Homo sapiens: one gene and its partner. The protein of the gene in region 2 interacts with the protein of the main gene of each other region in a biochemical or structural test. Each region holds a gene or a part of one and is shown on either strand. Other genes may lie near its edges. The genes, in order: MKRN1 and KCNH1.

Region 1 (9,665 bases), on a different chromosome or scaffold from region 2:
CCAGCTACTTGGGAGGCTGAGGCAGGACAATCACTTGAACCCGGGAGGTGGAGGTTGCGGTGAGCCGAGATCATGCCATTGCACTCCAGCCTGGGCAACAAGAGCGAAATTCTGTCTCAAAAAAAAAAAAAAAAAAATGCAGAGGCTTAGCACAGATTTCTTCAATTTAACCTTCATTTTTTTCATTCACTCCATCTACACAGTCCATTCAGATGAGCACTTCTTCTGAAATAAGGACCAACTGCTAATTATCTATAGCTTTCTGATTCTATCTCACAGTCTATTCTCATCCCTCTGCTTGGGAGGTTGGATTCTTCACTCTCATCAATATTCAACTCCTCCTGCCCCAGTCACAGTTGGCAGTAACTCTCAAAAGACTAGAACCCAGTTCAAGGAACACAGCTCCCTTACAATTAGCCTCAATACCTGCAGAGACTATACCACTACAAAGATTCGTCCATTCACCATTGCAGTGTGAAGTTCTCATGACTCTGCCTTTTATATTGGGACTGCAAAAGACATGCCTGGTGGAGAGGCCAGGTGCGGTGGCTCACGCCTGTAATCCCAGCACTTTGGGAGGCCGAGGCAGGTGGATCACCTGAGGTCAGGAGTTTGAGACCAGCCTGGCCAACATGGTGAAACCCTAACTCTACTAAAAATGCAAAAATTAGCTGGGTGTGGTGGCACATGCCTGTAATCCCAGCTACTCCGGAGGTTGAGGCAGGAGAATTGCTTGAACCAGGGAGTCGGAGGTTGCAGTGAGTTGAGATCATGCCACAGCACTCCAACCTGGCGACAGACTGAGACTCTGTCTCACAAAAAAAAAAAAAAAAAAAAAAAAGACATGCCTGGTGGAGAGTTTGAGAATAATGTCATTGTGTCATTTTCCCCCTTTTTCAGCAATAATGCAATGACAAATTAGCAAAGGGCAAAATGAGTAGCAACTAAACAAAGTTTCTATGAGATCAACTTCTGAACTTCTACACAGTCATTTGAAAAAGATCTTCTCTTTCCCCTCATCCTTACTGGACTCTTAATAAACAGATGTGGGATGACTTAACATTAATATCCCACACCATCAATAATGTCAGGTTCTGAACTCTATTTGAACCCAGTGGCTCACACTACATTTTCTGATAATGACATTAAAATTGACTATGACTATGGCACAGTGGCTCACGCCTGTAATCTCAGCACTTTGGGAGGCTGAGGCTGGCGGATCACGAGGTCAGGAGATCAAGACCACCCTGGCTAACACAGTGAAACCCCGTCTATACTAAAAATACAAAAAATTAGCCAGGCGTGGTGGCGGGCGCCTGTAGTCCCAGCTACTCAGGAGGCTGAGGCAGGAGAATGGCGTGAACCCGGGAGGCGGAGCTTGCAGTGAGCTGAGATCCCACCACCGCACTCCAGCCTGGGTGACAGCGAGACTCCATCTCAAAAAAAAAAAAAAATTTACTATGACACTGTCAAAAGTCTTACCGAGGGTAGTGGTTTAAAGTACATACAAAACTCTTTGATATGCCTTCCTTCAAAAGGTAGAGCCCAATCCTCTCCCTTTACATGTGGGCTGGACTTAGTAACTTAGTCCAGAATCAGTGGAAATAACAGTATATGACTTCTGACACTAGGTCATAAAAGGCATTGTGGCTTTTCCTTGCCTCCTCTGTTAAATTGTTTGCTCTGGGGAAAGCTAGCTGCCAAGCTGCAAGGATACTAAAGTATCCCTATGAAAAGGCCCATGTGGGCCAGGCGGGGTGGCTCACGCCTGTAATCCCAGCGCTTTGGGAGGCAAAGGCAGGTGGACTGCCTGAGCTCAGGAATTTGAGACCAGCCTGGCCAACATAGTGAAACCCCGTCTCTACTAAAAATACAAAAGTTAGTGGGGTGTGGGCCGGGCGCGGTGGCTCATGCCTACAATCCCAGCACTTTGGGAGGCTGGTGTGGGCTGGTCAGGAGATCAAGACCATCCTTTCAACAAGGTGAAACCCCATCTCTACTAAAAATACAAAAATTAGCTGAGTGTGGCGGTGCATGCCTGTAATCCCAGCTACTCGGGAGGCTGAGGCAGGAGAATCACTTGAACCTGGGAGGTGGAGGTTGCAGTGAGCTGAGGCTGTGCCACTGAACTCCAGCCTGGCGACAGAGCTAGGCTCTGTCTCAAAAAAAAAAAAAAAAAAAAAAAAATTAGCCAGGTGTGGTGGTGCATGCTTGTAATCCTAGCTACTCTGGAGGCCAAGGCAGGAGAATCTCTCGAACGCGGGAGGCAGAGGTTGCAGTGAGCTGAGATCATGCCATTGCACTCCAGCCTGGGTGACCAGCAAAACTCCGTCTTGAAAAAAAAAAAAGGCCAAGTGGTGAGAAACCAAAGTCTCCTGCCAACAGTCATGAGAGTAAGACCTCTTAAAAACAATACTGGGCTAGGCACCATGGCTCACGGCTGTAATCTCAGCACTTTGGGAAGCCGAACCGCGTGGATCACCTGAGGTCAGGAGTTCGAGACCAGCCTGGCCAACATGGTGAAACTCCGTCTCTACTAAAAATACAAAAATTAGCTAGGTGTGGTGGCGGGCGCCTGTAATCCCAGCTACTCCGGAAGATGAGGCAGGAGAATCGCTTGAACCCAGGAGGCGGAGGTTGCAGTGAGCCGAAATTGCGCCACTGCACTCCAGCCTGGGCGACAAGAGCAAGACTCCATCCTAAACAAAACAAACAAAAAAACCCAAACAAACAAACAAAAAACAATGCTGGCTGGGCACTGTGTCTCACACCTGTAATCCCAGCACTCTGGGAGGCCGAGGTGGGCAGATCACTTGAGGTCAGGAGTTCGAGACTAGCCTGGCCAACATGATGAAACCCTGTCTCTGCCAAAAATATAAAAAATTAGCCGGGCATAGTGGCACGCAGATGTAATCCCATCTACTTGGGAAACTGAGGCAGGAGAATTGCTTGAATCTGGGAGGCAGAGGTTGCAGTGAGCCGAGATCTTGCCACTGCACTCCAGCCTGGGCAACAGAGGGACAAGACTCGGTCTCACACACACAAAAAATATCCTGGAGTCCCCATCAAGTCTTCAGATGACTTGCTAAAATTTTGACTGCCATCTCATAAGTGTCTCTGAGATAGAACCATCCAGCTAAGGCACTCACAGAATCCGGAACCCCAGAAACTGAGATAATAAATGTTCACTGTTTTAACCTACTAAATTTGGGGATGGGCCAGTTTCTGGGGCTCATGCTTGTAATCCCAACACTTTTCGGAGGCCAAGGCAGGAAGATTGCTTGAGCCCAGGAATCTGAGACCAGCCTACGCAACATATTAAGACCCCCATCTCTACAAAAAACTAAATAAATGAGGTGGTGCATCCCTGTGGTCCCAGCTACTTGGGAGGCTGAGGTGAGAGGATCATTTCAGCCTGGTAAGTTGAGGCTGCAGTGAGAAGTGACCACACCACTGCACTCCAGCCTGGGCAACACAGTAAGACCCTGTCTCAAAAAAATAAATAAAAAATAAATTTGAGGGTTACTTGTTTAACATCCACAGATAATACACCTAGTCATTTCTGAACTAGGAGGATAGAAAAGCCCTACCCAATTTTTTTTTAAGGTGGAGTCTCGCTCTGTTGCCCAGGCTGGAGCGCAGTGGCGGGCTCTTGGCTCAGTGCAACATCCACCTCCCGGGTTCATGCAATTCTCCTGCTTCAGCCTCCGAAGTAGCTGGGATTACAGACGCACACCACCATGCCCAGCTAATTTTTCTATATTTTGTAGACATGAGGTCTCACTAGGTTACCCAGGCTGGTCTCAAACTTCCAAGATCAAGCAATCCTCCTACCTAAGCATCCCAAAGTGCTGGGATTATAGGCATGAGCCACTGCCCAGCCAAGAGTCATTTTCAAAGCATTATTTTTAATCAGTGACATATAAAGCTATCAGAAGTATGTCTTTTACCTTTTTCCTCCAACCCACCCCTGAACAAATTTATAAACAAATTCTTACCTGCAGCGGTCTCCATAAATACAGTACCCTCGCTGAAAATACTTGCACACTACACTATACGGACTGTCAGAGAGGTCATGCGAGTAGCGACAGTTGTCTCCTTCCTTACAAACCCCATGCATAAAATACCTGTGAGACGAAAGACCACAAAACTGGATTAAAACCAATCCTTGAAAATATTAAAACTAATTAGTATTCATGACTAATATATTCAACCAGTAAATACACAAACATACGAAATAAACACAAAGAAAGGGCCAGGCATGGTGGCTCATGCCTGTAATCCCAGTACCTTTGGGAGGCTGAGGTGAGTGGCTCACCTGAGGTCAGGGGTCTAAGACCAGCGGTTCGAGACCAGCCTGGGCAACATGGTGAAACCCCGTCTCTACTAAAAATACAAAAATTGGCTGGTGTGGTGGCACACATGTTAATCCCAGCTACTCAGGAGGCTGAGGCAGGAGAACTGCTTACACGTGGGAGGCTGAGGTTTCAATGAGCCGAGATCGCGCCATTGCACTCCAGCCTGGGAGACAGAGCAAGACTCCATTTCAAAAAAAAAAAATAAAAAGAAGGTGATAAGAAAACAGGAGTAAAGCAAGTGTATTAGTCCGTTTTTGCATTGTGTTTTTGCTTTGTAGCTGGGACTACAGGCGCCGCCACCACGCCCGGCTAATTTCTTGTATTTTTAGTAGAGACAGGGTTTCACCATGTTAGCCAGGATGGTCTCGATCTCCTGACCTTGTGATCTGCCCACCTCGGCCTCCCAAAGTGCTGAGATTACAAGCGTGAGCCACTGCGCCTGGCCCTTGTTTTTGCATTGTTACAACGAACTATTTTGACATTCCAGCCTGGGTGATGGAGCACGACTATGACTCTGTCTCAAAAAAATGTAATAATAATACGCCTTAGATTATGAAAACTGTTTAACTTACATAACAAAAAGAAAAAAAAAGGGCCAGGCGTGGTGGCCCACACCTGTAATCCCAGCACTTTGGGAGGCCAAGGCGGATGGATCACGAGGTCAGGAGATCAAGACCATCCTGGCTAATATGGTGAAACCCCATCTCTACTAAAAGTACAAAAAATTAGCCGGGCATGGTGGCAGGCACCTGTAATCCCAACTACTCGGGAGGCTGAGGCAGGGATTGCAGTGAGCCGAGATCGTGCCATTGAGCCACTGCGCTCCAGCCTGGACAACAGAGAGACTCCATCTCAAAAAGAAAAAGAAAAAGAAAAAGAAAAAAAGATATAGTCTACGTCAAAGAATTTCTCCTCCAAACAAAAACCAATGAATATAAGTATATGTCTTGTTTTTAAATGATACCACCAAAAAAAAAAAAAAAAACATCATCCAGATTCACCCCAAGTTGAGTTTGCCTTCGGTGAAAACCTGGGCCATATATTATTTCTGAAGTTCCTTCCACTGTGCAGACTCTGTCTCCATGAGACACTGTGCAGTAAAAGACAAAATTTACTAGAATCCCCCTACTGCTGTGCCTCTTAGAAACCTAATAGTGGCCCCCAACATAGAGAACAAGAAACTGCCAAGTTACCCTGTAAGGGTACAAGAGAACCAAACAGCACCCTCAGAGTATCTCTAGGCATCTTAACAACCTCTTTAGGAATTTCTACAAATTATAGAATAGATAAGGCATTTAATCAATTCATCTGCAGTGACACTTCTTACTTTGATATTTAACTTTTAATGAGTGAGTATACCATTTATCAAACTAGATTATAAATTCCTGATGGGTAAAGACTGGTTTATTCCCCTTTTTATCTCCAACTATCTGTGCACATAATATATACTTGTTAGAAAAAGGTAGAAAGCCGGGTTCGGTGGCTCATGCCTGTAATCCCAGCACTTTGGGAGGCCAAGGCGGGTGGATTACCTGAGGTTGGGAGTTTGAGACCAGCCTGACCAACATGGTGAAAGCGGTACCTACTAAAAATACAAAAATTAGCCGAGTGTGATGGTACAAGCCTGTAATCCCAGCTACTCTGGAGGCTGAGAGAGGAAAATCGCTGGAACCCAGGAGATGGCGATTGCACCGAGCCAAGATTGTATCACTGCACTCTAGCCTGGGCAACAACAGCGAAACTCCGTCTCAAAAAAAAAAAAAAAAGAAAGAAAGAAAGAAAGAAAGAAAGAAAGAAAGAAAGAAAGAAAGAAAGAAAGAAAGAATAAAAGACTGTAGGGTGGGCCCGGTGGCTCACACCTACAATCCCAGCACTTTGGGAGGCAGAGGCAGGTGGATCACCTGAGGTCAGGTGTTCAAAACCAGCATGGCCAACATGGTGAAACCCACTATCTACCAAAAATACAAAAATTAGGCCAGGTGCGGTGGCTCACACCTGTAATCCCAGCACTTTGGGAGGCTGAGGCAGGTGGATCATGAGGTCAGGAGCTCAAGACCATCCTGGCTAACACAGTGAAACCCTGTTTCTACTAAAAATACAAAAAAAACAAACAATTAGCCAGGCATGGTGGCACACACCTGTAGTCCCAGCTACTTGGGAGGCTGAGGCAGAATTGCTTGAACTCGCAGTGGGTTGGGGGGGGCCCAGAGGTTGCAGTGAACCAGGATCACGCCACTGAGACTCCGTCTCAAAAAAAAAATAAATAAATAAAAGGCTGTAGAAGACAGCTAGATGTGATGGTGAATCATGGTAGCGATAGCAAATTAATTTTTCTTTCCCAGTTGCATAATCTTTTTAATACCATTTAATATTTATTACTTATTTCCTCTCACAACCACTATGTAGTTTCCAAGTAATAAATTTCACTATGGACGTCACAGCACTCAGATAAAGAATTTCTGAAGGATTTCCTTCTTTCTTTTTTTTTTTTTTTGAGACGAAATCTCACTCTGTCACCCAGGCTGGAGTGCAGTGGTGCAATCTTGGCTCACTGCAGCCTCTGCCTCTTGGGATCAAGTGATTCTCCCACCTCAGCCTCCAGAGTGGCTGGGATTACAGGTGCCCGCCACCACGCCCAGCTAATTTTTGTATTTTTAGTAGAGAACGGGTTTCGTCATGTTGGCCAGGCTGGTCTCGAACTCCTGACCTCAAGTGATCCACCTGCCTTGGCCTCCCAAAGTACTAGAATTACAGGGGTGAGACACCACGCCCAGCTGATCTTTAAGTTACGTTAACCACATTTTTAAAAACTTTTGAGGCCAGGTACGGGGGCTCATGCCTGTAATCCCAGGACTTCGGGAGGCCAAGGTGGGTGGATCACCTGAGGTCAGGAGTTCAAGACCAGCCTGGGCAACATGGTGAAACCCCATCTCTACTAAACGTACAAATAATTAGCCGAGTGTGATGGCACGTGCCTGTAATCCCAGCTTCTCGGAAGGCTGAGGCACCAGAATTCCTTGAACCCAGGAGGCAGAGGTTGTAGTGAGCCGAGATCGTGCCACTGCACTCCAGCTTGGGCGACACAGACTCCATCTCAGAAAACAAACAAACAAACAAACAAAACACAACTTTCAAGGCCAAGCATGGTGGCTCACACCTGTAATCCCAGCACTTTAGGAGGCCGAGGCGGGTGAAACACTTGAGCTTAGGAGTTCAAGACCAGCCTAGGCAACAGGGTGAAACCCTGTCTCTATCAAAAATGCAAAAAAAAATTAGCCTGGGGTGGTGGCACGTGCCTGTAATTCCAGCTACTGGGGAGGTTCAAGCAGGAGGATTGCTTGAGCCTGGGAGGTGGAGGCTGCAATGAGCCAAGACACTGCCACTGCATTCCAGCCTAGGGGACAGAGCGAGACCCTATCTCAAAAAATACAAATAAATACAAATAAAAATCAAGAAAAGAGTTTTTTGAAAAATTAAAAATTAAACACTTGTTTTTTTGTGTATTATTTCAACTACCAGAACACTTATCTGCCATTATAGAAGCACTCTAATAAAGAGGGGTCTAAATTCAAATTACAACTTCTCTTTAAGTATTAACTGTTCTAACCTCACACACTCAAGGTAACTCAAGGTAGCAGATGCAATGAGCATTTCTGTTTCTTAGTATTGCTCTAATAAAAGATATGAAAAACAGCCTGGTGGTGGCAGCATAACACAGTTTCTGAGGAAAGGTATAAAACACAATGAAAACCCCAGGAGAAACATTAGAAAAAATGTAACCAGTAGGAAAATACAGGTGATTCCGAGCAATTAAAAACATTCTAATCAAAACTTCTAAGTGAAGAAAATAGCTTTAGTCAAATTCCTAGATACAGGAGTGATGTGCTATAGGGAGAAATGAGCACAAACACTAAAACACACCTCTACCTGATTCTTTAGGTGATGTTTACCTAGCAAACATATTGAAAATGTTTATTTATAATACAGTACATACATCTGCACTCTCTTGAACACCTAATATTGTGTCTCCCATTGCTGGCGTGCAATGTTTACTTACTGAATGATTGAATAAGGTAGTTCCAGAAAAAATATACATGTGGCCGGGCGTAATCCCACCTACTCAGGAGGCTGAGGCAGGAGAATCGCTTGAACCCAGGAGGCAGAGGTTGCAGTGAGCTGAGATCTCGCCACTGCACTCCAGCCTGGGCGACAGAGCGACACTCCATCTCAAAAAAAAAAAAAAAAAAGGAAGATACACATGTGTTCTGTTAAGTACTTTGTCTTTGGTAATTTACAAGTTTTGTTTTTTTTTTTTTTAATGAAAGCAGAGGAATCTTACAAAGTTCCTGTTAAAGTGGGTAATTCTAGGTATATGACTTTATCAACATCACTCAAGCATTTACTCAGTATCTGCTCAGGATACTCAGTAACTGAGTATCCTGTTCATGATACTGGAACTGAGGAAAGAAACTGAGGAACTGAGGAAAGAAAGCCCTGCAGATAAAATAGGGCCCTACTCTTCTCAGAGAGCTCAAAGTGAACGATAAGGATCATAGACCGGGTGCGGTGGCTCACGCCTCTAATCCCAGCACTTTGGGAGGCTGAGGCCGGCAGATCACCTGAGGTCGGGAGTTCAAGACCAGCCTGACCAACACGGAGAAAGCCCGTCTCTACTAAAAATACAAAATTAGTCAGGTGGGCATGGTGGTGCACGCCTGTAATCCCAGCTACTAAGGCATCTGTAATGCCAGAGACTGAGGCAGGAGAATCAATTAAACCTGGGAGGCGGGGGTTGTGGTAAGTAGAGATCACACCATTGCACTCCAACCTGGGAAACAAGAGGGAAACTCTGTCTCAAAAAAAAAAAAAAAAAAATGATAGTTGACATTCCTCTATCTAAAGGAGAAAATAGTTTTAAGTAAGAGATCATGTTGGTACCTAGAACAACCGAAAACAATGTCAAACACTAAAACCCCAGACCTATCAAGGAATCTGCACAACAATAAAAAACTGTCTCAAGCAAAAGCTATACAAAAAACCCCCAAAAACTAGTAAATCTAAGCTCTTTCTTTTCTTTCTTTTTCTTTTTTGTTTTTCTTCTGACAGAGTTTCACTTTCGCCCAGGCTGGAGTGAAGTGGTGTGATATTGGCTCACCGCAACCTCTGCCTCCTGGGTTCAAGCAACTCCCTGCCTCAGCCTCCGGAGTAGCTGAGATTACAAGCGCCTGTCACCACGCCCGGCTAATGTTTTTTGTATTTTCAGTAGAGACGGGGTTTCACCATCTTGGCCAGGCTGGTCTTGAGCTC
Region 2 (9,771 bases):
CAGTTGACCCACAGTGTTCCTCAAACACATCTATTCTTTTAAGATAGATTACTAAAATAAATGGGTTGCATAAAAGTCATGGAATTTGGAAGCTTTATTTCCTTAACATTAAATGACAAGGCTTCAGCTTCTCAATCCCCCATCTAACATCAGCCAACAGATTTAACTTTTTGACACTTTCAGAGAAAGATAGCTGAGCCTTGGCTGAAGATTGTCTTAGAATATTTTACAAGAAAAAACAAGCTCTGCTGAGCTGGTAATAATCCAGATTATCATCCATTCCCCCTTGTAGAGGCACAATGGATTTTAACCAGTTTTCTGTTTTATAAATATTACCATGGCTCAAAACACCCATGAGGAGACACAACATTACTCGTGGTTCTCATCCTGTTTGCTAACTAATTATATCAACAACCTGAACCAACTTAACACTATACAAAAACACAGCTGATTTAGCAATCTGTAAATTATACATGTACATAAATCTGTACCAAAATGTGCTGTGTTTCACTCCTGCTAATGTGCATGGATTTTTACTGGCACCTACAATTGTTTGATATAGGTTCCCGAACACTAAAACATATGTTCTGCCCAGAATGGGACCATTTAGAGTAATATTTTTGTAGTTTCCTGGCACCAAGGTCTGCCAGCCTTTCTAAGACAGATCTCCTATTTGCTTCAGCAAACATTCTGACAACAAGTGCCTGCAGATTTAAGCAACTATCAAAAAATATTCTGTAACAACAGTTTCCAACCATGAATATAAAGAGAAACAGGCTGGTTTTGCCTATGTGGCAACAAAGCCAGTAGGATTTAAAATGATCACTGACATGACCATAAGCAAAATCAAATAAAATATGGAGTATTAATTATTTCTGCTGCCTACTTACGGCAATTTAAAGAACAGATAATTATCAAATCTTTCCTTAAATGGGATTCAAAATGTACCAAAGAAAGTTAAAAGTCGGTTTTAGTACCAGCAAGACCAGTAAACACCTTAGAAATGTTTTTTAAATACAGTGACAGGCCTAAACAGTCGCAGCCGGTCAACACTGTAAAATAGGGGCAAGAACCTTGGACCAAGATTCACTAGAATGTAATTTACTAATCACAAGGAGGGTTTCTTGTTTACCACTGTATCCTCAGTGTTCCATAAATACATTCAATAAATCTTTGTTGAATGAATAAACCAAAAACAACTGCTGGCTAGTCCCTGATCTGTCTCTAATTGCCTTTTCCTAATTCTGCCTCTTACGAATTGTAGGTAAATCACTTAACCTGAGGATTCTTAGGTGAGTTTTAGTTTAAGGATTTTAGTTCCTTAAACTCTAAAATGGAGAGACTGCACCTCCTCTACTAGCTTATGAGGATCAAAGGTGATACTCTGTGAAAAGTGACTTGGTACTTTATAATGGGGCACACAGATGTTAAGTGCCCATTATCCCCGCCTTTGCCTTCAGCTAAACCACTGACAAAGGTGAACAGACTGCATTTCCTTGAAATATAATTAGCCTTTCCTTTGCCCTATTATTCTGTTGAGATGTGGTAGTGTGGCTGTTAGCCAAGATGGATGTTGTTCTTGTTGTTATAACATTTTATTTAATCTCCACTGGGAAATTATGCTTCTTGAGAGAATATAATGGTAACATGAGGAAAGGGTTTTTGCATGGTGTACCATAAAGAATCTGACATTGGACTCAAATGGTTTGGGGCCTCATTAGTTCTGCCCTTAAATATTTGAGGAAAGCCTCTTGCATCAATTTCCTTATTTATACAATGATGGGGAAGGAGAGGCAGACTAGATAATATTTAAGGTCTGTCTCTTCCCACAGCTCTATGATATTCCGGGCATCAGATATTCAAATAACCCAAAATGAAGTCAGTACTATTATTCATTATCATATGAGAAGTTTTTAAAGGATGATAAAAATAGTTCCACAGACTAAGTCATAAAAGCTGGAGAAATTATAATGCTGAGAGAAGGATATATGATAGATGTCCTCTAAGGAATACCAGCCTCAGGCATTGTTTGCTCTGCCACTTTGAATAAGCCACTTAATATTCCTAGGACTCAGTTTTCTGATCTGTAAAAGAGGAACATTAATACTGCACAGGACCACTGGGAGAAAATATCTAATAAAATGATCATAAAATATTGCTATTCAAAGGTAAAATGCTATTTTAATACCGTAATGTCCAAAAAAGGGCTCATGGATTTTAGAATGAGACAATCAATATCTTTAAATAGACTTTTTCCACCACAGTAAAATAATATAATGCATGCAGATATTGTGATATTTCTAGGAGTTCACATTTTTTCTTCCATTTGTGTTCAGGAAATATTATAAAAGGGATCACCTTTTAAACATTGAGTCCCATATTTCAAGATGAGAACCATTTATTCTGAAATAATAATTTTAAAAATTCATCCAACTCTCCCAAGATGCTTCATTTTTTTTGATGCTATTCATTTGATTGGTTAATTGAAATCAACCTGCTGAAACTGGTGTTGAAATGACAATGCCCATCCTAAAAATATTCCCAGTGACTTATTCTATTCACATTCTATGATTACAGAGGGAAAGTGGCTCTAATAAGATCAACTAAAATAGACAGTATTCTGCCTTCACAGCTCCAAGATTCTTAAGGTTCCCTTAAAACCCAAGGCATCTTGTGACTTTTACATGTAAGTTTCTCTTCCTGCTCCCTCCACTCAAAAACATACACAGTATACATTAGGTACTGGGTTTCCCCTCTAACTTACAGGGCACTGCCTCTTTACTGAAAAATAGAATTGTCATTGATATTTATGAGAAAGTTGGTGTCACTGACAATGGGATAACCAAATTTGCAAGATTGTCTCCATACCCCTTAATAGTCCAATAAAAATAGCAATAATAGCACAGTAACTCTTATTTTATTTAAAAATAAATGAACAACTCCAGCTTTTTTATGGCAAAACAGTTCATTGTGGCTGTTCACATAGCAATTATCATCCCCTTGCATCCCCAGGTAATGACTGTGACCTTGACCTAAAAGCCACCTTAGTTTGAATAAGGAAGACCTTGAAAGGAAAGGTGACTGACCAGAAACACTCTTAAGAGGCACACAATAAAGAAATGATCATTTCTAAGAAAGTACTTAAATAATACGTGATTATTTGCTATGCTAGTTGATGTGTTTCATTATAAGATAAACTTAAATCACTGTTTAATTAAAGAGTGTTTATTAGTAGCATAAGTCACTTTTCATGCCCTTCCCCTGAATCCCTAACTAAATCCAAACAGAAGCTCATCATTTTACACAGAAGCTCCTTAGACTCTGAAATCGTGATATTTACACATTATTAAAACCCATTTCCTAAGTTAGCTCCTCATGTCTCCCTGGTAGAAGAATGTCATCTGTTTCTGGAAGGGGTGGGGTGGGGGCTCTAGGAGTCTGCAAAGAGCATCTTATGCTTGGCTATCTTTCAATATAGCCATTTGATGAACTCGTGCGCTGCGCCTTCCAACTGCCAGGACTCCTAGTCGCTCTGCAAGTGCTTAGTTGGGGTCTCTCCTCTGTTAAGTCCGAAAGGCGTTTGGAATTCTTCCTTTCCATCCCCGCTCCTAGGACTCTCGCCTCTCAAGGCTTCATGCTACCGTCGATCTTAATGCCACAAGGAAACAGATGAGTGCTGATTGTCAGTTTATTGGGTAATGGATCTATTTATAGGTTTGGTGAGATTGGGAATTTATAGGTGAGCAACACTTAAGGGTGGCATAAAACCGTTGTGGGTTTGGAAGAGGGGAAATATAACAGGTTTGTACCTGTGACCATTTAGTTCGCTCTGCACCTGTGCCCTCCACTTCCCACCTGACGCCAGGAAAACCATCTGCCCCTCACTTCGAAGGTGAGCCTTAACTTCACCTAGAAAGTGGTGGGTGGGTGAAGGGGTGGAATCAGGCCGCCGAGAGCACGTCCCGACACCTCGGACTTTTCAGTTGCAGGGATGGAAGGTGGAGGCAGCCGGATCCTCCCATTCTGAGGCAGCGGGGACCTGGAGTTGCCCGTCTCTACTGCTGGCTCTCCCTGGGGAGAGGCGGCGCCTCTGGGAGCAGCCCGGGAGCCCCAGAGCCTTCGCGGAAGGGTGGGCAGTGCCGATGGGGCGCGCGCTGCCGCTCCGGCTGCAGCCAGCTTTCCATCACTTTTCCCAGTACTTTGCTCAGCAGCTGTCACGCATCCTTGGAGATAAGACCGAGAGGGCGCTAGAAAGGCCCAAAAGGCGTCCCCAGAAGAGCTCTCCTGTTAGGATGGGGACCCATCAGACCCCGCCCCGCCCTGCCCACCTTTCTCTGCCTCGGGGAGGCTGCCCTGGGTGCCCGCGCCGCGGCTCCTTAGCAGAGCTCGCGGGTTCTGCTGCATCTGCTGGCTCCGAGCGGCGAGAGGTTCTGCAATAAAGGCACGGATAAAACGCCCGGGTAATCGAAATCCGAATGCACCTCTTACCATTGGACCGCCGAACAATATTCTCCAGAAACGTGTTTTGAGGGGCCACTAGTCCCCTCCTGCCCCCAGCCATGGTCATCCTCCCAGCAGCTCGGGGTCCGGCGGGCGTCCTGGCGCGGCTTCTTACGACAGCAGGAAACTGGCCTCGGGGCCCGCACGCAGTCCCGGCTCGAAGCGCCCCATGCGCCCGGCGGGGATCCGCAGGCAGGGCTGGCGGCTCCCTCTGGCTGCTACCCTCGCGCCCTCTTCGCGCCTCCCTCCCTGCGGCCCGCCTCGCAGTGCACTCGCGCCGGCCTCGGCTAGCGGCAGCCGCCTCCGGGTGGGCGGAGGGAGCAGCGGCGCCTGGGCCGGCGGCGCCCCCTACCGGGCTCGTGCCCCACCGCCGGCCTGCGGGAGACCAAGCTGGGGGGCTCCCGCAGAGGCAGGGAAGTGGCGGGCGGCCGTGGACCAAGGCTGGGACGGCAGCGCCACCCTCTGGGTTCAGCCGGGAAATGTGTTCAGGATGTGCCATGGGCTGGGTGGAGAGGAGGGCATTGTGAGCAGCTTTCAGGGCGGATTCACCCCCAACAAGTCTTAGGGGAGCGTGCTGATGTAACTCTCTTCCTTTGCTCTGTTTCAGGCCGGGGCCCCCGGGACCTGTGAGGCTCTGGGAACACCTTCTTGCCTTCCTGTAAGGTTAGCCTGACTAGTGAAAGTTGCCCCACCTTGATTCTAGGCCAGTGTTTGAGCAGTAATTAATGAAGTCGTATTGCAATAGTGCAGATTTAGAGTGACTGGCAGATTCAGCTTCAGAAGAGTTGTCTTGGGTTGTTTTTACCGTAGACACAAATGCAGGCTCCTGATGTTTGGTATGATCAGTATCAAACTGCCTGACAAACATCAAAGGGGTGGACTTGTCTCTAAGGGCGAATGCTCAGGAGAGGGGCAGCATTAATTAAGCAACCGTGGCTTTGGCTTGAAGGGTAGTCTGTAGTGCAGAGGATACAGTTAGTTTTTACAGCTGACCCCTGGTATACGGAAGAACCACATACACCCAAGGTTTCTGGACAGGGGCTAAGACAACGGTCGTTTGTTCACTTATTTTGGGGGATTTCGACCCACACATAGTCTGTACCTGCCTTTTTACTATGTATCCCCAGTCGGTGCGGTGGGAGACTAAGCCTATGTCCCACAGGAGAAATGAATGGAGAGTTTACTAGTTTCAGACTGAGTCAACAGTCAACACAAAAATGTAAGAGAAAAAAAAACTAACCCTGAAAATTAATTGTCTGGGTTAGCCATCCTGACATATCCTAATGTATTGCAAAGACATCCTGTCTCAGTTAATTAATTTCAAAAACAGAAGAACTAATTCTTGCCCAGAAATCTCTCAGAGTTGCTGTGAAGATCAAGCAAGAATTATGTATGGGGACAGCACCTTAAATTGTAAAGTGCTGTGCCAAGGTCAGACGTCATTATTGGAGTGACTAAATAAATTGGGCCATTACGAATATCACCCTTTATCTCGTCTTGTGTAGAGACAAAGTAAACAGATTGCTGTTAGCAGAGAGTTGGATAAGACTGTCATAGGATTTGAAATGCAAGTAATGATACACTTTTTCCTTAAGATAGCCTTCTACCCATCGCCTGTTACCTAGTCTAGAACAGTGATTTCTTAAACCCTAGCTCCGTCTAGTGGTTCTTTGTTCTATTACAAATGAGATAACACTGGTTGAAGAGAACTTGATTCTGAAATGTATTTGGTGCTGAGCTGAGCCAGTTTGGTGCCTATCCACTTCATTTGAATAAGTTCATTTAAATAAGGTTTTTAAAGTTGTGTTATCGCACAAACATGCCAAGGGAAGATTTTTCATGACAATATTAAAAACCCATCAAGAAACCTCATAATCCTGCTTGTGAAAGGAAGATAAAGAAAATAATGTGGAGGGGAAAACTATCATAGAGAGTTAATAAAATTTCTAAGGTTTTAATGAGCTCTCATGTTCTGTGGCTTAGATAAAAAAGGAAACAGATGATATTAGTTTGAGATCAGAGATGTTAAAGCCTTGGTGGGCAACCTGATGAGAAAAAGAAATAAGATGTCTTCCATTTTAAATGTACTACTGAAATGGATCTCAACATGGACTCTGTGTGTGTGTGTATGTGTGTGTGTATTGGCACCTTTTTGAATACTACAATTTTTGGTGGCACACTTGAAGAAATTAAAAGACCTAAAACAAAATAGTGCTACTACAAAGTGGTTCTTTTTTTTAAAGTTTTAAACCTCCAGATTGTGTGCCATAACACGATCACATTATTTTACGTCTTTTTGCTTAAATAAGACTGGATGCTTATAAAAGCACTGTTATACTGTGTTATGGCACTTTAAGTACTTGCTTAGAAATGATCATTTCTTCATTGTGTGCTTCTTAAGAGTGTTTCTGGTCAGTTACCTTTCCTTTCAAGGTCTTCCTTATTCAAACTAACTAAGGTGGCTTTTAGGTCAAGATCACAGTCATTACCTGGGGATGCAAGAGGAAGATAATTACTACGTGAACAGCTACAATGAACTGTTTTGCCATAAAAAAAAAAAAAAAAGCTGGAGGTGTTCATGGATTTTTAAATAAAATAAATATTTAAGAATTAAATTGCTAAAAAGTCAGCAGTCTTTCATCACAATGTGAGTGTCTCATGGTGTCTGTGGAGGTACATCCAGTTTTTCCCCCATTCCCTTGGTTCACTCACAACACATCTGACTGCAGGAATAAAATCATGTTCTGCCCTGTCCACAGCCACATTCTCAATATTCCAGTAAACACTCCCTCTTTCTTGGTGCTAGTTGACGGGATACTGTGCTTCTTACCTTTTACTTGCCACCTTTTGTTCCCTCCTTGACATTCAGTTCCAGCACCTGCTCAACTTAAAGTTCTGTCTGAGATCTACCTCTGTAATATGGGAATCTCAGTTAGAGTAAACTTTAATCTTACAGATTTGTCAAAACTTGGTAACAGATTTCTAAAGGATTCACAATATACCAATGTACCATGGCAAACCAATTGAGAACGCTTATATTTTTGCATAACAGACAAAGCCACTCCTTCATTTAAAGGGACAACTTTAAATAACTGTGACCAGAGTTCCAATTCAACTGCCTCTATCCTTCCATGCAGAAAATGTAGCCCATTTTCTGCAGGGATACAGAGTTCAGATACAGAGTCTGAAATAAATTCTAAAATGTGAGTCTACTATTTCTAGGCTTCTTTCCTCCTGTATCCCTCAGCATTTTGTTTACCCCTTAGCTATAAGATGTGTTTATGTCTGTATCACACCGTAGATTGTGAGCTCCTTGAAACAAAGACACACTATAACAATTTTTGTTCTTATAAATGCTATTAAGCTACACTGTAATTAGTGAGTTCACAAAAGTAATAGATAGTGATGAAGGCATAATGCTATAGGGAGAATATGGAGATGGTGATCTGCAGATTGGCTGGGAAAAGAGTCCAGGAGATGACAGAAAAATCTCTCCCAACAACAACAACAAGTCTATCAAATGAAGAGGATGACAATGCCACACATCAGAAGGGGCAAATGTTATCATATAAAGACAGGAACTTCATTTTTCCTTCCATTAAGACCACATGGTGTGGGTGACAGATTTTAGAAAGCCAGGAACCTCTCTAACATAGGAAAGTTGCCTGTGAGTCCTAGGTCTGCGAGCTGGAAGGGGCAGGCCATGGATGCATCGTCATTAGCAACTTAAGCGGAGGAGAAATTGAACATAGAGGCGACTTCACTACTCAGCCACCAGGAGTGAAATATCTAAATATCTAAAAGTGGAGGAATTTGCAGCATGAGAAATTTCAGCTTCTATAGCCCAATGACTGACTGACTTATTATATGTGATTTCTGTTAACAAAACTTCTATTTGAATAATCTTATAGGAAGAATGTTGGGCAGACTATATCCATTGAAAAAAAAAAAGATTCCCTGCTATAGATGTATTTCCCTAGTGTTGGGAGAATGGACAGAATCTGCTTCAAAGGAAATACTAGTCCCTGAATCTAATTGACTGGGGAAAAGAATGCACTGATGTGGGTCTACACTCACCCATGGTTAACCCAATAGATAGTGTGAAATGTTTGTAGAATTGAATTATATCCTTCCAAGTGCCCTAAGCTATTCTTCTTTCTCATTTCCTCTAAACAAAAGAGAAAAGGATCTTTCATCACACCCTTCCCTCAGTGGGAAATAATTAAAAGTCATTTACAACAGTCTCATTTTATTATGACAAACATTTGCATCGTGTCTAGTATATAGCAGACAGGGATAGGTTCTAAGGATTAAAAGATGGTTATGATTGGCACCTGCCCTCAAGAAATTCAACAAATATTTAATGAATGTGTATGTTCTTCGTCATTTCTTTCAACTGCTTTCCTGTCTCCAATGTGCCCTCTAAATCTTCCTTTCTTTTTAAATAATCTATAGTTCAACTTGACCTCTTCGCTTAAGATTTTTTTTTTTTTTTTTTGAGACAGGGTCTTGATCTGTTGCCTAGGCTGGACTGCAGTAGCAAAATCATGGCTCACTGCAGGCTCAACTTCCTGATCTCAAGTGATCCTCCCACCTCAGCCTCCTAAGTAGCTATAGGGGCAGGCCACCATACCTAGCTAATTTTTTTTTTTTCTTGTAGAGACAGGGTCTCCCTATGTTTCCCAGGCTGGTCTCGAACTCCTGGGCCTGAGCCCAAGTAATCCTCCCACCTCAGCCTCCCTAAATTCTGGGATTAAATGCATGAGCCACCACACCCAGCTAAGACTTTCTTTCCTCCTCTTAACTGAGATCTGGCTTTCCCCTAAAGTCTCAGAGTCCCGTCGGTCCCACTTTTTTGGAATATATTTATTCTGTCACAGTCCATGTACCTAGAAGCCAGAAGTTGAAGTGAGAAATTGTCTAGTTCCTCATTGCCATATTTAAACCACTGCTCTTCTCCATTCATGTAAAATTTCTCCTACTTTGAAGTTCATGAACAATGTCAATATCACTATACTTCAATTCTTAAAACAAACTTGGGGAAAATTGTATTCAGTTATGAAAAGGCTGAGTTGCCTGCAGGACATTTCAGAGAAATATCAAGTAGGTAGTTGGATATTCACATCTAGAACCCAAGAGAAACATCTGGGTGGTGCTCAAAATTGGAAATCATCAGTTTATAGCTTTCAAAGGAGACTGAGAAGGAGCAGTTTAGAAGTGGAGGGAACCGAGAGAAGTGGTTTTATAGAAGCCCAGAGGGGAAAGGTCTTT

The links.
Region 1: the proteins of KCNH1 (region 2) and MKRN1 form a complex in vitro, tested with the Homo sapiens proteins (one study listed by BioGRID).

Annotation. Positions count from the first base shown.
Region 1 is NC_000007.14:140,467,885-140,477,549, forward strand, and holds part of MKRN1 (E3 ubiquitin-protein ligase makorin-1), read right to left. Parts: intron 6,606-9,665; exon of another isoform or gene 6,497-6,605; intron 5,944-6,496; exon of another isoform or gene 5,891-5,943; intron 4,128-5,890; coding exon 3,999-4,127; intron 1-3,998. UniProt on the Homo sapiens protein: E3 ubiquitin ligase catalyzing the covalent attachment of ubiquitin moieties onto substrate proteins. These substrates include FILIP1, p53/TP53, CDKN1A and TERT.
Region 2 is NC_000001.11:211,129,379-211,139,149, forward strand, and holds the start of KCNH1 (voltage-gated delayed rectifier potassium channel KCNH1), read right to left. Parts: upstream 4,771-9,771; 5' UTR 4,568-4,770; coding exon 4,489-4,567; intron 3,997-4,488; exon of another isoform or gene 3,810-3,996; intron 3,649-3,809; exon of another isoform or gene 2,901-3,648; intron 1-2,900. UniProt on the Homo sapiens protein: Pore-forming (alpha) subunit of a voltage-gated delayed rectifier potassium channel that mediates outward-rectifying potassium currents which, on depolarization, reaches a steady-state level and do not inactivate.